2 linked regions of the Homo sapiens genome follow. The protein of the gene in region 2 purifies or fractionates together with the protein of the main gene of each other region. This does not show direct contact. Each region holds a gene or a part of one and is shown on either strand. Other genes may lie near its edges.

The links. Proteins that work in one complex are often made in the same cells at the same time.
Region 1: the proteins of TDRD9 (region 2) and SEMA4B purify together in Homo sapiens (affinity purification with mass spectrometry; one large-scale study listed by BioGRID and IntAct). This does not show direct contact.

The regions. Positions count from the first base shown.
Region 1 is NC_000015.10:90,218,330-90,221,829, reverse strand, and holds part of SEMA4B (semaphorin-4B isoform 1 precursor), read right to left. Parts: intron 2,038-3,500; coding exon 1,939-2,037; intron 849-1,938; coding exon 737-848; intron 464-736; coding exon 350-463; intron 217-349; coding exon 65-216; intron 1-64. UniProt on the Homo sapiens protein: Inhibits axonal extension by providing local signals to specify territories inaccessible for growing axons.
Region 2 is NC_000014.9:103,927,046-103,931,255, forward strand, and holds the start of TDRD9 (ATP-dependent RNA helicase TDRD9), read left to right. Parts: upstream 1-1,410; 5' UTR 1,411-1,464; coding exon 1,465-1,679; intron 1,680-4,210. UniProt on the Homo sapiens protein: ATP-binding RNA helicase required during spermatogenesis. Required to repress transposable elements and prevent their mobilization, which is essential for the germline integrity.

The DNA.
Region 1 (3,500 bases), on a different chromosome or scaffold from region 2:
ATCTTGCAGCTGTGGAGGCTTTGAGGTCCCTGGGGTGGCCACCCTGTCAGCCCGTTCCCCTCACCTTGCAGATGCGGGCAATGCGGGACACAATGGTGTTCTCAAAGAACTCAAATTCCTGGCCAGTCTCGCTGAAGAAAAAGTAGATCTTGTCATCATCGCCTTGCAAGCTGCCCAGGCTCTCAGGAATGTAGGCTGAGGCCACAAAAGCTGGGTCTGTAGGGACCAGGTCAGGAGCTCAGAGTCAGCCCAGGAACCCTGGAGACAGGCCAAGCTGGGGGAAAGTGCCCCCTTCTAGGGCTGGGTGAACAGGATCCCTGCCCTCTGGGTGGTGGCAAGAGGACTTCACCTTGCAGCCAGTTGAGGGAGCTCTCGGTCTTGGTGGGGCGAAGGCTTTGGCTCCGCGAGATGGCCGGGTCATTCCCTTGGAAGCTGCTGACTGTTCCAGTGTAGAGCTCGCCATCTGCCAAGAAAACATTCCCATGGGAATGGGCTCCTCAGCACGGCCCCTTCTCCCTGCTCAGGGCCCAGAGTGACCCCAGCACTGCCCGTTTTGCCTGTGGTGGGCAGAGAAGGAAGCTGGAACTTGGAAAAACCAAACCCAAGGCAAGCCCCTGGCCATTCTGTCCCCTTGGAAATAAGCATGGCATGGACTCAGCCTGTCCAAAGCTAGCCCTCTAGCCCTGTGTGCCCCTACATGGAACCTCAATGAAGCCATCCTGCCCTCAACACTCACCAACCACCAGGGCAGTGGACTTGAAATTCGGGTCGAAGGGACAACGGCCCTTGCCATCTTCCAGGAGGACATTCCCCTTCTCGTCCCTTGCCAGGGTGAAGTTCTCCATGTTCTGCAGGAGGGTGGACACATGGGCTCAGGGGCACTCCAGGGAATGAGGAGCAGGCTTGGTGAGAAAGAGAGAGGCGTGCAGGAGAAGGCAACTCTGCAGGCAGGTGAGGTGTGTGGGACAGAAGGGGTCAGGTGTCAGGGACGCCGTCCTCCTCAGCCAGGACACGGTGCCGAAGGGTTTGAACCTGGACAGTCGGCCTCAGGAGAGGCCTCACCCAGACACAGTGCCACACTGCCTCACAGTGACCCGACGCGGGACACATTATCAGACCCACCTGGCGGAGGAGGTGAGGCTTAGAAAATGATGTGAGCCTGGCCGGGCGCGGTGGCTCACACCTGTAATCCCAGCACTCTGGGAGGCCGAGGCGGGTGGATCACGAGGTCAGGAGATCAAGACCATCCTGGCTAACACGGTGAAACCCCCCTCTCTACCGAAAAATAGAAAAAATTAGCCAGGCGTGGTGGCGGGCACCTGTAGTCCCAGCTACTCGGGAGGCTGAGGCAGGAGAATGGCGTGAACCCAGGAGGCAGAGCTTGCAGTGAGCCGAGATCGTGCCACTGCACTCCAGCCTGGGCGACAGAGCGAGACTCCATCTCAAAAAAAAAAAAAAAAAAGAAAAGAAAAAGAAAAAAGAAATAAAATGATGTGAGCCTGGAAGGGGCAGCAATGTGATTCAAACCCAGGTGTGTCTGACCCCAAAGCTGGGCTCCAACCCACAGCATCAAATGCCACCCTCTGCTAGGGGTGTGTGCTGAGGAGGGGGTGTACAAGATAAGACAAGAGAATCAAGCAAAGGAGAGGGAGAGATGCTGGAAGAAGCAGAAGAGGGCAGCAAGGCCTGGGTGGCACAGGATCTTCATGGGTAAGTGACCGCATGTGCCCCCGCCTCCCCGCACAGGGAGACATGGCTGTCAGGGCTGCGCTTTGTGCCAGGGTGTGGGACCTCAGGGCTCTTGGAGGCCAGTGGTACCTAGAAACCTCCCTCTGGGCCCTGCCTTTCCTCAGGGGTCTATGCTACAGAACAGGATCCCTGGGGCAGAAAGAGGGGCAGTTCCCAGGTCAGCCTCAGGGCTGAGGACAGGTCACTCACGATGTAGGTACACATGGGGCTGAAGGCTGCTGTGCCACAGGTGAACAGGTGACTGCCGCTGAGCGGCAGGAGGATCTTGATGTAGTTTTGACAGTCGCGCTGGGGGGAAGGAGCGAGGGGATATCAGTCCCACGCCCAAGCATGCCACCAGGGGGCACCGCCGAGCCCCCCCTTCCACACCCAGGCCCGGCCTCTGCTCCCAGGACTGGGGATGGGGCACTCAAGTCTAGGAACAAAGAACCCACGGGTTTTCTGGGGCACAGTGGAGCGTGCACAGAGTGTGTGTGCTGCAGGGAGCCCAGGGGCTCAGCTAGTTTTGTGACTGGCAAACTTTCCTTCGGCCTAGGGGTGAGGGCACAGAATCCTACCCCTTTGAGTTGTACTATTCCCCAGCAGCATCCTCTTCAGAAGCCACAGGCCCCTCCCAACCAAGCTGGGAGCTGATGAAGCCACAGCCCAGAGCAGGAGGACTGCTCAGCCCTGAACCCTGAACCCCAGATTCATGCATCACCTTCAAATGGGGTATCTAACTGGCACCTGCAACCAAGCTTCTTTCTGGTCCTCCCTAAAACACATGCTTCCCCCCGAGATCTTGCCACTTTCATTAATTCTGTCTTTTCAGTCGCTGAGGCCCCAAACCCAGTCAGCCTTGACTCTTCTTGTCGGTCATACCCCATAATTTCCCACCCAGAAATCCTGGTGGCTCCATCTTCAAAATGCATCCGGAATCTGAGCATTTCTCACTGGTCCGAGCCACCATCATCACTCGCCCCTCACTGCTCTCCCTCCTCCTGTCCTTCCCCATGGAGGCTTCTCTACCACAGTAGCCAGAGTGACCCTCTTAGTACACAGGTGAGACCATGTCACATCTCTGCTCAGCCTTCCCCTGGCCTCCCAAATACCTCCCTCAGAGTGAAATCAAAAGTCCTGCCCCTCCTCCAGATATGCCACTGTCAGCTCCTCACTCTCTCCTGATCTTGGCTCAAATGTCACTTTTTTAATGAAATGTTACCTGACCACCTCATTCCATCCCACGCCCCGCCAATAACATTTGTAAACTGACTACTTTTTCTTTTGAAACACAGTCTCATTCTGTCATCCAGGCTGGAGTGCAGTGGCGAGATCTCGGCTCACTGCAACCTCTGCCTCCCAGGTTCAAGCGATTCTCCTGCTTCAGCCTCCCAGGTAGCTGGGGCTACAGGCGCCTGCCACCATGCCTGGCTAATGTTTTTTGTATTTTTAGTAGAGACGGAGTTTCACTATGTTGGCCTGGCTGGTCTCGAACTCCTGAGACACTCAGGAGACCATGAGGTGGAGACCTTGTGATCCACCTGCCTCAGCCTCCCGAAGTGCTGGGATTACAGGCGTGAGCCACTGTGCCAAGCCTGCTTTTTCACAATTAAATCTCCAGTACCTAAAAGTACATGGACACAGAGTGCATGCTTCATCAATGTTAGCTGAATAACAGAATGGCAGCCAGGACTTGAACCTGTGTCTTGATCCCAAGTCCAGCACTCGTTTGCCCTCACCTTACCCAGCACCTGCTGCACTTAGGAGCAGGA
Region 2 (4,210 bases):
CAGGAGGTTGTGGTGGGAGCATCACCTGAGCCCCCGAAGTTGAGGCTGCAGTGAGCCCTGATTGCAGCACGGCACTCCAGCCTCAGCGACAGGAGTGAGACCCTGCCTCAAAAGAAAAAAGAAAAGCAAGTTATTTCTTCCTGGCAAAGTGTGTTGAGGCACTTTTGGGAACCTGTCGTATTTGGCAGAGTCCTAATATGAGGTCTAGAGCTCATTATGCCAGGATTTGGAGCCAGAACTCCTGGCTTAGTATGATTATGGGTTCAATTTTTGAGACACCAATAGCTCAACCTACCTGCCTGATTTCTGTCTACAGTGTTTTCAAACCGCCCTCTTATTTGCCACTGCTTGGGCTTTACACTGCTGATTAGAGCCATGCTCTCGATACCGTCTCTGTATTTGTTCACATGGCTCTTTCCTGAGAGCCCACATGGGCCAGATAGATCCTGCCCTGGCCAGTGAGGGGGACACACCCCAGGCAGGTGGCCATGTCTCTCTTCTGACCCTCCCTTCCCTTGCACACGTGGCTGCCTTCCCGTGCATCCTTTGTTGATTTCTTCCCGCGGCTCCTTCTTTTGGGGAGTTTGCTAGGGCTCTGTTCTCCACCCTCACTCTTCTAGAGCTCGGCCGGGACCACCTCAGCCTGTATCTTTGGTCCATGTGATCGCCTGGACCTCCTGTCCGCACCTGTTTGTGTCCAGCTGTGAGTCTGACACCGCCGCCTGAGACACCGGTTTAGGAAGGAAGATGAATTCAGTTATGATCCGGCTGCAAAGAACTTCTCCCAGATCCTCACCTCAGCCATCAGGGCCGCCTGCCCTCCCCTATAACCCTGGGTGGTCCTCCGTCTGGCGCATTCCCCCGTATCCTGCAGGGGTCTGCCTGGCGTTACTTTCTCCGAGACCTTCCTGACCTTCTTCTTGCCCCTCTCCCCCCATATTAGGTGCAAGGATGTCCTGGTACGTCTGACCCACGAACGCAAATCCCTTCTCTGGTTTGCCTTCCATCTCCTCACCCTGAGGTGCTCAAGAAACGTATGTAGGGTCCCGGTCCGCTCAAAGCGCACAAACCTCCGAGGCAGCAGCCTCTAAATAGAGAGGCCAGGGAGTGACCGGAGGGCATTTTCTTGTACACACAGGGGTTGCCACGGAACTCCCGTGAAACAGACTCCCGGGCCAGCCGCGGCGCTCAAGCTTCCCCTGAGGTCCTAGAAAGGCTCACCCTGGGCTCGCTCGGGGCGGCGGCTCCCGGCAGGCCTAGCGCGGCGGGGCGGGGCCGGCGGCACGAGGACCAGGCAGCGCGGGCAGCACGCGCCCGGGCCGGAGCCCGCCCACAAGGGCGCGCGGCGCGTTCTGATTGGAAGGCCTCGAGCGGGGGCGGGGCTTCCAGGGTGCGCTTCCGCCGTCGCCTGTTCCCGCCGCGGAGACCCGGCAGTTGGGGGATGCCGACGCCTGGGCCTTGAGGATGCTGCGGAAGCTCACCATCGAGCAGATCAACGACTGGTTCACCATCGGCAAGACGGTGACCAATGTGGAGCTGCTGGGCGCGCCGCCCGCCTTCCCGGCAGGGGCGGCCAGGGAGGAGGTGCAGCGCCAGGACGTGGCCCCCGGCGCTGGTCCCGCGGCCCAGGCTCCGGCTCTGGCCCAAGCTCCGGCCCGGCCGGCCGCTGCGTTCGAAAGGTAGGACGCGGGCGGGGCGGAGGCGGCTGGAGGGCGGCCGGGCGAGGCCTGGCGACGAGGGCACGGGCCATCCAGATCCTTCTCGCGAGCCCGTGCCCTCTCGCGGGGCTCCAGGGACCCCTGACCGTCCAGGGCGAGTGGTCACTACACAACCCGACGCGCGGCCCAGAGCGGTGCCTGTAAGGAAGCTGAGCTAGAGGTTTTTTTTTTTTTTTTTTTTTCAGTTCTTAATGTTTAACAGACTAGTTTTTGAGGCACTCAGGTTTTCAGGATAACGGAGCGGAGGGCAGAGGTCCCATAGGCCCCTTCCCTCCCAGAGTTTCCCCTGTGAGCATCTGCGTAAGGTGTGGGTATTTGTGACAGTCGGCGAACCTGCATCGCTGCGTCTTCGTCACCCGGAGGCCATCGTTACAGGAGGGTTCACGCCTCGTACTGGACGTTCTGTGGGTTTGGACAAACGCCTAACGTCACGCATTACAGAGTTCACTGACCTACAGATCTTCTCGGCCCCACTGTTCCTGCCTCCCTTTCCCTACACCACGTGGAAACCACTGATTTTTTTACTGTCTCCATAATTTTGCTTTTCCATACTGTCATCTAGTTGGAATCACACAGTATGTGTAGCCTTTTTGATGGGTTTCTGTCACTTAGTATTAGTATGCATTTGGGGGTTCCTCCATGCCTTTCCATGGTTTGATAGCTTCTTTCCTTTTAGCACTGATTAATATTCCACTGTCTGGATGTACCACAGTTTATCTCCATTCACCTACTGAAGGAGAGCTTGGTTGCTTCCAAGTTCTCCCCCCACCCCCCGAGATGGAGTCTCACTTTGTTACCCAGGCTGGAGTGGAGTGGCGCCATCTCGCCTCACTGCAATCTCCCCCTCCTAGGTTCAAGCGATTCTCCTGCCTCAGCCTCCCGAGTAGCTGAGGCTACAGGCATATGCCACCACGCCTGGCTAATTTTTGTATTTTTAATAGAGACAGGGTTTCACCATGTTGGCCAGGCTAGTCTAGAACTCCTGACCTCAGGTGATCTGCCCACCTCAGCCTCCCAAAGTGCTGGGATTACAGGCGTGAGCCACTGCGCCCGGCCTGCTTCCAAGTTTTGGCAAGGTTTTTGTGTGGACATAAGTTTTCAACTCATTGGGTAAATACCAAGGAGTGCAAATGCTGAATCTTTGTTAAGTTTCACAGACTCCCTCCTCATCTCACTATTCTTTAAGTAGCTACCATCAGTTACTCTGTTCACTTGATTTGGGTGGAAATAAAAAGCAAGAGTATATCCTCTGTTTTTAGAGGAAAGACGTAGATTTGGTGAGTAGAAACACCTGCTCCCTCTTCTCGCTCTTTAAAAAGGCCCTGGGAGAAGTACTTCCAGCTTGGAGTATCTCCGTCACTCTTGCTCAGTCCCCAAGTCCAGCACGCTTTACAGTTGAGAAGGTGGTTTTGTTTTTCTTTTTCTTGGTTTTTTTTTTTTGAGACATAGTTTCGCTCTTGTTGCCCAGGCTGGAGTGCAGTGGCGCAATGTTGGCTCACCACAAACCTCCGCCTCCTGGGTTCAAGCGATTCTCCTGCCTTGGCCTCCCGAGTAGCTGGGATTACTGGCGTGTGCCACCACGCCCAGCTTATTTTGTATTTTTAGTAGAGACAGCATTTCACCTTGTTGGCCAGGTCGGTCTGACCTTGTGGTCCACCCATGTCGGCCTCCCAAAGTGCTGGGATTCCAGGTGTGAGTCACCGTGCCTGGCTTTATTTTTCTTTTTTAAAGTTACTCTTGTTTGTTAGTCTTGTCTGATTTGATGGATAGGCCCAGACTCTGGGTCAAGCTTTCGTGGGTTGCTTCAAGCCTTTGTAGAGTTCTTTCAAGTACACCTTTGGGATCTTTGGTAAATTTGGTTCTTAGAGGCATAGGGGGGACCGAGAGACCCCTTGTGCAACTTTGGAGTTGCTGTTTGTATGTTTGCACACTTTACTTCCTTGAGCTACTCTGGTAAATGATCCTGTGGGCCGCCTCCCCTACTTAATGGTCCATCACTTACTCCTTAGTTTTAACGGTGTGAACAGCATTGCTATTAAATAACCCATTGTAATATTGGAAGTAAATTATTATTGACCTTGTCAGAAAGTATAGATTTAAGTGCCATTTTAAGCACTAAGGACAAGTTTTTAAGATTTCTAGTCCTTCATGGACTGAGACTTTTATAAAATCAATAAAAATGAATTTTCAGAGCAATGAAATGAAAAAAGACAACATACTAATCGCAGTTAAAAAATTATTAGATTCAATCTGGGTGTGGTGGCTCCCACCTGTAATCCCAGCACTTTGGGAGTCCAAGGTGGGCAGATCATTTGAGGTCAGGAGTTCCAAGACCAGCCTGGCCAACATGGTGAAACCCTGTCTCTACCAAAAAAAAAAACAAAAATTTGCCCAGCATGGTGGTTTGTGCCTGCCGCCCCAGCTACTCAGGAGGCTGAGGTGGGAGAATTGCTTGAGTCCCTGAGGCAGAGGTTGCAGTAAGCTGAGATTGT